Regions from separate parts of the Homo sapiens genome. Here all the other regions are linked to region 4. The links come from fine-mapping of genetic effects on gene expression. A gene starts in region 4. Each other region holds a variant in brackets. All regions are shown on one strand. Distances are between the middles of the regions.

What was found.
Region 1: its variant is fine-mapped to the expression of RAB15 in whole blood (TOPMed, PIP 0.98).
Region 2: its variant is fine-mapped to the expression of RAB15 in naive CD8 T cells (Schmiedel 2018, PIP 0.95).
Region 3: its variant is fine-mapped to the expression of RAB15 in whole blood (INTERVAL, PIP above 0.99).

The regions. Positions count from the first base shown.
Region 1 is chr14:64,931,368-64,934,053 of GRCh38, reverse strand. The region is part of intron 3 of CHURC1-FNTB (CHURC1-FNTB readthrough); the gene reads right to left. CHURC1 (churchill domain containing 1) reads right to left here. Exons shown (of 4, transcript NM_001386928.1): 4 at 1-1,916. The coding sequence ends at 1,824. Among named protein-coding and RNA genes, the nearest start is that of GPX2, 10 kb to the left of the region's middle. The variant T/C (reference allele first, on the strand shown) is at 1,481.
Region 2 is chr14:64,889,687-64,892,372 of GRCh38, reverse strand. All of the region lies in intron 1 of LOC105370534 (a long non-coding RNA gene), which reads left to right. Among named protein-coding and RNA genes, the nearest start is that of SPTB, 11 kb to the right of the region's middle. The variant G/TG (reference allele first, on the strand shown) is at 1,625.
Region 3 is chr14:64,879,845-64,882,530 of GRCh38, reverse strand. LOC105370534 (a long non-coding RNA gene) reads left to right here. Exons shown (of 3, transcript XR_943942.3): 3 at 1,143-1,650. It overlaps SPTB (spectrin beta, erythrocytic), which reads left to right and starts at 2,624. Exons shown (of 36, transcript NM_001355436.2): 1 at 2,624-2,686. RefSeq lists silencers at 2,004-2,083, 2,154-2,293, 2,344-2,513. The variant T/G (reference allele first, on the strand shown) is at 1,507.
Region 4 is chr14:64,971,206-64,973,891 of GRCh38, reverse strand. RAB15 (RAB15, member RAS oncogene family) reads left to right here and starts at 1,556. Exons shown (of 7, transcript NM_001308154.2): 1 at 1,556-1,939. The coding sequence starts at 1,816. The region is part of intron 3 of CHURC1-FNTB (CHURC1-FNTB readthrough); the gene reads right to left. RefSeq lists a silencer at 1,394-1,763.

The DNA of each region.
Region 1 (2,686 bases), 40 kb after region 4:
TAACTTCTTTGTGCCTGAGTTTTTTTGGCTCTAAAAGTGCTACACTGAAATAAAGAATAGTGAATATAAACCTTTTCATGATAACTTACAAATAACAAGCCATATCTGGTTATGGCTAAACTATCAATAGCACCTACCTTATGAATTTGTTAATGAGGATTAAATAAGTGCTTAAAAAGCTCTTAGCATGTAGTAAGTACTTAATAAAGCTCAGATATTATCATCATTACTGTTATTCAACAAAGCTTTTCCCTAGTATCTACAATGAACACTTTGCTCATTTCTTGTTCTTATAAGACCTTAGTTCAGAATTTCCAAATCTCCTAGATATGAAGAAACACTTTTGTTTCTAATGCCTGACCCTTTAAATTTAGGTCTCAGAATGAGCACTAATTGAAGCCACCTCATTGTTTCTAGTACTTTACATGCTTTCTAAAGTATCTTACATTCACTAATTCATTTAAATCTCCTAACAATACTGTGATGAATGTATTATATCAATTTTTGTTAGTCCAATTTGATAGAAACAGGACAATAAAGTCCAGAGTAATGCTTTGCTTAATGACTATACTGCTACTAAATGGCAGAGAGGCCTAAATGCCAGTTTATAACCTCCTGGCCAGTGCTCATGAAACTATGCAAAGTAAGATATTCTAAAATCCCTTTAAAGCCAATGAAACCATTTTCTCATTTATATTAACTGAAGTCCACACTGTATTCAGATTTCCCTAGTTTCTACCAAATGACCTTTTTTTCTTTTCGTGGTATATAATTCCATGTAGGATACCACATTACATCTAGCAGTCATGTCTTCTCAGGCTCCTCTTGGCTGTGACCATGTCTCAGATTTTCCTTGTTTTTTATGGCCTTGATAGTTTTGAGAAGTACTGGTTAGGTATTTTAAAGAATGCTTCTCAATTGGAATTTGTGTGATGTTTTTCTCCTGATCAGACTTGGGTTCTGAGTTCTGGGGAGGAGGACCACAGAGGTAAAGTGCCATTCTTATCACATTCTGTATGATGTGATGCTATCAAGGATACATGCTATCAAAAGGGCTTATCATGGATGATGTTAACCTCAATCACCTGGCTGAGCTGGTGTCTGTCAGATTTCTCCACTGTAAAGTTACTCTTTTCCCCCCTTTCCATATTATACTCTGCAAGGAAGTCACTATGCAGAGCCCACTAAGTGGGGAGTATCTACATAAATTATTTGAAATTCTTCTGCACAAGAGATTTGTTCCCATTCAATCATTTATATTAGTTTGGGCTTGTAAATATTTATTATATAGTTTGGGTTATAACCCAATACTACTTTATTTTGTTACTCAAATTGCTCCAGCTGTGGCCTTTCAGAGATCCTTCAGTTCGATCATGCTGACATACTCCCAATCACTATGATTTTTTTTTTTTAATTTCAGTACTTCATTTTTCTGTGGCACAAGATACTCTAGGCTCATCTTGTACAGTTCATATCCCAG[T/C]TCTAGAATCAGTTCATTTTCTAAGGAGTCCTGGTTCCTTTTATTGGAAACCAAAATCTGGGCACCAGGTGTGCTCCCATTCTAGTTGTTTTCTGACCACATAACTGCTAACAAAGATGCTTCACTCTGGCTACACTGATGTGAACTTTGAACTTTAGCAGAAGAGCTCAGCTCTAGAGAACAATGAGCTCCTACATTACCTTTTTTCCTCAAAGAATAAGTAAGTCTAAGCAGAAAAAAAATATGCAAAGAATTTTCAGTATGAATGAAATAAGACAAACCATCAGGCTTGCTGTATTGTAAACCAACACAATATAGTTATAACAGATCTGTAGAAGGATCCTTAGAATAAGAGAGTCATTTGTCGGGGGTCATCAGGGAGAATACTGATAGTATCTTCGGCTTTGCCGCATAACAGACACAGCATGGTATACTCCTAGAACAAGATAAAGTGCATAATTACCTAGAGGAACAGGGAAAAAGATGCTTTATAACTTACTCTAGTTAAGATGTTCTCTACAAATTGTCATGAATATTCTTTCTGTACATTGGATCAATTTCTTCAACATGTATCAGCAATGTCTTAGGCTTATTCTGTATATTCCAGAGCCTGTTGTTTATATAAATTGATACATAAATGTCATCTTGGAAATACATGGCTATTTCTCAGAAAGCACATATATTTAGCTTAGTGCTATTTAAAGTAATGAAGCAATTTGAGTGTGGGTCCCTATGGACAAATTCCTATTCTTACAGCTGTTCCTTTCTAGCATATTTAACACTAATACACAACAGAAACAATTTTTTGAAAGGAGAAAATTCCCAAACTGAAAAAGCTATTTTTATCTACCCTAGGAAAATAAACAATTATGTTAAATTCACTAGTATGTCCTGCCTCATTTTCAGATGGCTAGTTGTCTGGGAATTTGATCCATTTAAGAAGTTTGTTTCCCAGGCTTAATAAATGCCCAGATTGGTAATAGAGGAGATTTTGTTTTAGGCAAAAACCCTTAGGGCAAGGTCCTTTTTCTTTTTTTTTTTAGACACGGTATCACTGTGTTGCCCAGATTGGAGTGCAGTGGTGCAATGATGGTTCACTGCAGCCTTGACCTCCTGTGCTCAAGTGATCATCCCACCTCAGACCCCCAAGTAATTGAGATTACAAGCACTCGGCATCACGCCTGGCTAATTTTTAAATTTTTTGTA
Region 2 (2,686 bases), 82 kb after region 4:
GATTTGTTCTGATATACTCATCTTTTTCTTCCAATCTCCAAGGATTCCCAGACATAATTAGGAGTATAGTCTAATCTGGACTGTGAAATCAAATAGCTAAGTGAACCACAACAGACTATTCAATCTGATGTTCTAAGCAACCGTTCTTAACCTTAGTTGCACATTGAAATCAACTGGGGAGCTTACAAAAATTCATGATTGGGTCCCATCCTGAGAGATTCTGATTTACTGGTGTAGGATGCAGCATAGACAGTGGGGATTTTTAAAAGCTAATATAGCAGTAGGCAAAGATGAGAATCCACAATCTAAGGTAGTCAGCACGACTAACACAATCAGCTTCAATCAATGAAGCTGAAACAGTGTCATAATACTGTCATAAGACAGCAGAGGGCAGAGTTGGCTCACATTTACATAGAGATAAACCATCTTACATAGGAAATAGTAAGTAGTTAATGTAATTTTAACTTTGTACTTTGTGGTTGTCTTTTGCCATAAAGCTTTCCTTCACTGTTAAGGCAAAATTACTTTTTGTACATTGGAAATTACTGGGAAGCCCCTGGGGGGCAGCTGATCAATAAGGTCATTGTATAATTTATTGTCCAAACCAGTACATTTTTGAGAGTGCCAAGGGAGCACTATTAACGATTATGCCAGGATAACAGGTGCAAACCTGTTTTGCGCAAACTGGAACATATGGTCACCATGTCTTATGTGGGATCCAGGAGATGAGCTAGAATCTGTAACATAGCTTTATTCATTAAAGCAACTAGTAGAAACTATGTACTTATGCTGTGTACTTATGCGTATTAAAATCTTCAGCATTATTTTTGCGTATGCCCTATCCACCTATCATTGTTTAGTATCATACTAGGGATCTTGGGCAATAGAAGAGAAACTTTTTAAAGTATCAAGCATTATACAATTTAGTTGGGAAGAGAAGACTGATACAGAACTTTGTTCTGGTAAATAAATCACAAGAACACCTTCAAAAATCCCTTCAGTAAGCAGAATATAACAAGTAAAATAAATAATGAGTTAGTGAGAGATAAACTGTAAATTATGTGCATGCTGTTCTTGACTTGTTGTGGCTCCACTTAGAGTTTCTGGTCATGGTCCTTGCATGCCTCCAGCACTTCCAGTAGGCAGAGACCAGTTGACTTCCTGAGCTGCTCTGAGTCTAAACCTCAGAAATTCTCTTCCTTGTGAGCATAGCTTCTCTATTCTCATAGCTTCTCTATTCTCTATTTTCATAGCTTCTCTATGCACTCGCTAACTCCTTAGTTAACCTCTATAGCCATTGATTCCCAAATTGAGTCAAGGAATTTGAGTATGAAAGGTATGATACAAATGGCAAAAAGCAAATAATATACTACTAACAATCATTTAAGTCAGCAACAGGAAGATTCCTCAAGTAGAGAAGTTTAGATCCCGTTTGGACACTCAGATCGCCCATCCCACATAGAGATCCAGATCCCCATACTGGGTGTTGCAACTACGCCACACACTTTTTGACTGATAACAACCACAGTAGTGACCTGTCTTTATGATTTCCCACAAGATTTTTTTTTTCTACCAATTTTCAACTTCAAAACTTATTCACTATTTTGCTTTTTTTTTTTTTTTT[G/TG]AGCTAGAGTCTCACTCCTTCGCCCAGGCTGGAGTGCAGTGGCACGATCTCGGCTTACTGCAACCTCTGCATCCTGGGTTCAAGTGATTCTCCCACCTCAGCCAGGATTATAGGCACACACCACCACGTATTTTATTTTGTATTTTTAGTAGAGATGTAGAGACAGGGTTTCACCATGTTGGCCAGGCTGGTCTTGAACTCCTGACCTCAAGTGATCTACCACCTTGGCTTCCTGAAGTGCTAGGATTACAGGTGTGAGCCACTGCACCCAGGCCACCATTTTGCATGTAAGAAGCTTATTCTCAGCTGTGTGCAGTGCCTCACACCTGTAGTCCTAGCTGCTTGGGAGGTTGAGATGGCAGGATTCCTTGAGCTCAAGAGTTTGAAACCAGCCTGGGTAACATAACAAGACTCTGTCTCTCAAGAAAAGAAAAGAAAAAAAAAAGCTTATTCTTCTTCTTTTGCTGACTTATCTTGTATGAATTCCCACTTGATAGTTAACCTATCTTATAATTTGTTCTGCATTTTTTGATGTTTATTTGAGTAATAAATATAGTTATCAAGGTTAATTAGGCAACCTTAGGAAACTCAAATAATTAAAGCACAATAGTAAAGAAAACAAAGTTATAAGATCAATCCTGTCATAAAATGGTTAGGGTTTGCTATGGTTTGAATGTGTTCCCCAAAGTTCATGTGTTGGAGACTTAATCCCCAATGCAGCAGTGTTGACAGGTGGTTTTTTTTTTTTTTTTTTTCGAGACAGAGTCTTACTCTGTTGCCCAGGTGGGAGTGCAGTGGTGTGATCTCGGCTTGCTGCAGCCTCGGCCTCCCAGGCTCAGGTGATCCTCCCACCCCAGCCTCCTGAGTAGCTGGGACTACAGGCATGTACAACCATGCCCAGCTAATTTTTAATTTTTTTTTGTAGAGACTGGGTTTTGCCATGTTCTCAAGGCTGGTTTTGAATTCCTGAGCTCAAACAATCCGTCCAGACAGGTGGGATCTTGAGGGAGTTATTAGGTCATGAGGGCTCTGCCCCCATAAATGCATTCATGTTATTATCTT
Region 3 (2,686 bases), 91 kb after region 4:
ACCTTGATAACGAACATATGTATGTGTTTCCTTCTCCCTTCTTTTTTTTTTTTTTTTTTTGAAACAGAGTCTTGCTTTGTCACCCAGGTGGGAGTGCAGTGGCGTGATCTTGGCTCACTGCAGCCTATGCCTCCCAGGTTCAAGTGATTCTCCTGCCTCAGCTTCCCAAGTAGCTGGGATTACAGGTGCGCACCACCACACCCAGCTAATTTTTGTGTTTTTAGTAGAGATAGGGTTTTGCCATGTTGGCCAGGCTTGTCTTGAACTCCTGACCTCAAGTGATCCGCCTGCCTCGGCCTCCCAAAGTACTGGGATTACAGGTGTGAGTCACCATGCCCAACCTTTCTCCCTTCTTTTATTCTCCCAATTTCTCATTCCTGGCCACAGAGATCTGTTCCCCTTTCCCTATTATTTGACAATGCCCTTTCCTCACTGCAAGCCTAAATTTCCTCTCTTCCTCAGTTCTGATTTATCATTTCACTGTAACTCTATTAGCTGTAAAGCATTTGGGGATGCTGTCAGGATAACATGCTCTGTAGCAAATGAGGTTGTATTGAATTATTTAGCTTTCAGCTAAAGTGGAGATAACTAAAGCAGCTGAGCTGGTTTGTAAAATGTTGGGGTAATCTGTCTGCTGATTTGGAGTTTTATCATATTAATTTTTTCTTATGGTTGAAAATTATAAATTTTAAGGCTACAAAGAAAAATATGTATGCAACTATTCAGTTCAGTGCCACAGACCTATAGCTAAGGAATTATCTGGCTTGCATAGTATATAATTACGTAGCTGCAGAACCACCATTCTAGAGAACCATGAATTTATCTAATAAGTTTATTCATACAAGCTTTTAAAAAACCATAAATACATAATTTCCCTCCATTTTTTTCTAACAAAAATAGATGAAGGATTTCTTCTTGAGATATATAATAGTCTCAGCTTTTGAAGTTGGCCTGTTTTTCTTGAGCTTTCCTTGCCAGAATTTGACTTTTAAACATTTTTTTTCACAAAACAGAACTTTCTCTTTTTAACTCAGTAATAGAAAAATGCATTCTTAAATGTTGTCAACAAAGGGGAGGAGGGGATCACTGCGAATCTATCGATGACCATGAATGTTTTTGTATCCTCTTTCCCATATTACTAGTGTCTCTTGGAAAATTGAGCTGTAATAAGGATCCAGCCAAGAGGAGGGTGGAGTGAAGAATTCTGTGGCTCTGTAATACCTGGGGCGTTTGTCCCACTCAGCACATCTCAGTGTCTAAATACCCACCCTCAAGAAGTGGGACTGCAGCAGGAAGTGAAGTATCTTTGCATATGTTCAATATATAAACTAAACTCGAACATCTGGCAAACACCCCTTTCCTGGGTGAATTCTGGAAAACAGCACAATTATAATCCCAAGCAAATAACTCAGGAGTAAGACTGTTCCCTTGTTAAGAACACCAGGCAGCATCAGTAAAAGTTAAAACTTCTTCTGCATCTATGCGCTTTTAATCTCCACGGCCATT[T/G]CCATAATACCTGAGATTACCTGCGTTGATAGCTGGTGAGAAATCATCCCAGGCACCGCAGGTGGAGAAAAGAGATGAAAGCTACCTCAAGGCGTACACGTAAACCTTACTGAACAATGACCTTGATCGTTAGAAAGTCAAGAAAATGTACTGCCTTGCAAGCTGCCGGTGTTCTATTGAGTTTCTCTCCGGGGGCAACTCGGAGATGCCTTTTTGGCACCATCGGTTCTAGTATTTCCTCTGGCCTGCTGCGCCGCGCCTCATCCAGGCTTGTAGTGAGGCACCCCCACTCGCCCGGAGACCCGGGCCGGCCAGGAGGTGCCAGTGGGCAGGTGTGGCAGCCTGCCTGTTGATTACAGTCCCTACAATGTGCGAGCTCCTTGGGACTGCAGGCTGCGCGCCGCCAGCTTTGCCTGGTTCGTCCTGATTACACTAGGTTTTCGGGCAGAAACAGCGACACTGAGCTCGGGCTGGGGGTGGGGCCCTCGGGCCCAGTGCCCGCCCCCTGCCCTCCCACCGCCAGCCGAGAGAAGCCCGCCCGGGAGCGCGCTTTCTAATGCACCAGCCCCCGGGAACAATCTGTCCCTCCCAAACCCGCCACGGCGGGGGTTCACCTCCCGGGTACCCGCCGCGCCCACCCTATGGCCTAAATGTCTTTTCATATATTTTAAAAACTGAACTGTGTGCAGTGGGGATGCAGGGCGGGAAAGGCTGGAGGGCTCATTTTCGCCACCAGGCTTGCCTCTCCGGGCGCACGAATTAGGCCCGAGCTAGAGTCCAACCCCCTTCCCGCCTCAGGGGGCTCGGGGTGGCGCGGGGTTAGGGGCAATGAACGACGATGGAGGCGCCCCAGGCTCAGCGGCGGGCGGGGAGGCAGAGGCGGGTTCCAGGAGCCGGGCTGAGGCCCGGCAGGTGCCCCCAGGCGCGGAGGCTGATTGGCAGGTGCGTGAGTGGGTGGGGAAGGCGGGGGCTGGGCTTGGCGCTGCGGGAGGCTGCGGCCCCGCCTCCCCGCCCCCGCCGCGGGACTATCTGGTCCCGGCAGCAGCGATGTCCCCCGGCAGGAATGTCCCTCCTCAGATAATGTTATTTATATCTCTGGGCGGGTCCGCGGCTCGGCAGCACCAGGCGCCCGGCGGCCGCTGTGCCAGGAGCCCCGCGCTGCCCTCCTCCCCCTGCGCCG
Region 4 (2,686 bases):
GACAGAGTTTTGCTCTTGTTGCCCAGGCTGGAGTGCAATGGCGCAATCTCGGCTCACCGCAACCTTCGCCTCTCAGGTTCAAGCAATTCTCCTGCCTCAGCCTCCCGAGTAGCTGGGATTACAGGCACCGGCCACCACGCCCAGCTAATTTTTTTATATTTTTAGTAGAGATGGGGTTTCACCATGTTGGCCAGGCTGGTCTTGAACTTTTCCCCTCTTATTATAATTCAGACACTTAACCTGAAATATACCTTTTCAAATGAAGTAAATGGGCTTACCACTTTCCTTGACCTACTATTGAAAAATACATTCTCCATCCAATATTCAGCCTGAAAACAGGTATGTACATATATACTTTTCATTGCTTTTTTTTTTTTTTTTTTGAGACAAGGTCTCCCTCTGTTGCGCAGGCTGGAGTGCAGTGTCATGATCTCGGCTCACTGCAGCCTTCCCCTAATGGGTTCAAGCAATCCTCCCACCTCAGCCTCTCAAGCCTGGGATTACAGGCGAGCCACCGTGCCCAGCTAATTTTTTTTTATTTTTAGTAGAGACTGGGTTTCACTACATTGGCCAGGCTGGTCTCCAGCTCCTGACCTCAAAGTGATCTGCCCGCCTCAGCCTCCCAAAGTACTGGGATTACAGGCATGAGCCAACGCGCCTAGCCTTTCATTGCTTTTTAAAGACCTAATAGGCTAGACTTTGCTCTCCCTCAATACTCGTTGGTAGGGATAGGCAATTTTCTCAACTCCGGAGAGCATTCATTTGCCTCTCTCCGGTGCTAACACATTCAGTGGTAGGAAACTGGATCTTGAACAAGGGCCATTCATTCTTTGGTGCCACTGGCTATACCACAGAGAAATTTAGGGGTCTGAAACAATACATTGGTCACCTGGGCACCTATCCTAAGCACCTTAGAGGGAAAACGGAGACTTGCCCGCACACCTCTAAAGGATTTTGCACTTGGAGATGTTCTTATGGCCATCTATCTTTTCACCCTGGTGGAGGCCGTGAATAGGCATTTTCCCCATTTAAAGAAAAAATGGGGACGGGGGAGGGCCGTGACACAGTCACACAGGTAAGGGGCAGCCAGATGGCAGGGAGGGGGAATTCCACCCACACTCTCGGGGACTCATGGAGACGGGTGTTCGAATCCAGATCCTGCTCAAGGCCTTCCTACCTCGGGTGAGCCCAGCTGAGGTACCAGCCACTGGGGAGCCCGGCCAGATCCTGCAGATGCAGGGTGCCACGGCGGGCGGAATTACCGGCGCCAGACTTGGGGTGGGATATGGGGAGAAGTGGTGAGCCCGGAAAGCGGAGCACGGTAGAAGTGGGCTGGGTGGGGGCTCACCTCAACTCCCCCATTCGGAGCGTCCGCGGAAAAACGAAAACGTTCCCCCGCCCCGGGCAGGAAGGGGTTGGGAGGGGGGGCTGGCGCCCCGCCCCAGCGTCGCCTGCTCGATGGGGTCCCGCTCTCCTGCGCGCGCTCCCCGCCCCCTCTCTCCGGGGCGGCGGCGGCGGCGCAGGGGAAGGGGCGGGCAGGGGCCGCCGCCGGTTTCTCCTCCCACCGCCTCGCGCCAGCCCAGCCGAGCCGAGCCGAGCCGAGCGGGCGCCGCGCCGGGCTCCCGCCGCAGCCGCGCTTCCCGGCACCCAGCGAGCGAGTGGGCAGGCGGGCGGGCGAGGCAGCCGCGGGGGCCGGGCCCGGCGTCCTCCTCGCCGCCCGCAGCGTCCCCGGGCGGGCGCGGGCCGCGATGGCAGCGGCGGAGCAGGGCTGAGCCCGCTGCCCGCCCGCAGTTCCCGGCCCCGCTGGCCCCAGTCATGGCGAAGCAGTACGATGTGCTGTTCCGGCTGCTGCTGATCGGGGACTCCGGGGTGGGCAAGACCTGCCTGCTGTGCCGCTTCACCGACAACGAGTTCCACTCCTCGCACATCTCCACCATCGGTAAGGGGCGGTGGCCCGGGGCGCCCCTCCCTCCCCGCCCGCGGCCCCTTTCCCCGCCGCCCCCGTCCCCAGCTGGGGAGGAATTGCCAGCCCCTCCGGCTGGAGGCGGTGGCGCCGGAGGCCGGAGTCCGGGATAAATCTCGGGGTGAGCATAGGTTTTGGCAGGTGAGGGTGTCCCTGCTGCCTGCCGTCCGGACCAGGGGTGGGGTCTCCCGCCTCTTGCCGGGAAGCCTTCCGTCCCATCAAACCGAGAAACCGGGGGTGAGGGGAGCTGGTGTAGGCCTGGGTACCCCGAGCTGGGGTAGCAAGAATCGTAGCCGCTGGAATAACATCCCCACACCCCCAGGGGGAGGGGAAGTAAAGCTTCTGCTACGGAAAAGGGGGTCAGGGTGGAGACCGGAGTCACTGAGGCGCCCTTGGTTCTGTGGTGACCCAAGGTGGAGCCGGCGGGGGGCGAGGGGGGGAAGAGAGGACGTACGGAGGGGCCACAGGGATCGAGTTTCCAGGGCAGAGTTGGGAAGGTAAGCCGCAAGGTGGGACACCTGGGGGAGGACACAGATAGGGTGAGGAGCCCCTGCGCCTGGGAAGAGGAGACATCTGTTCTGAGGGAGGCTAAAGAGGATGGAGGAGTGTCAGGAATACCTGCCCAGACCAAGGGGTCAGAAGGCAGGCAGGACCCGCCTGAGGGCATCTCTCATCTGGCAGTGCTGGAGCCTGTGGTTAGAGGGACAAGACCCGGTGGCATCC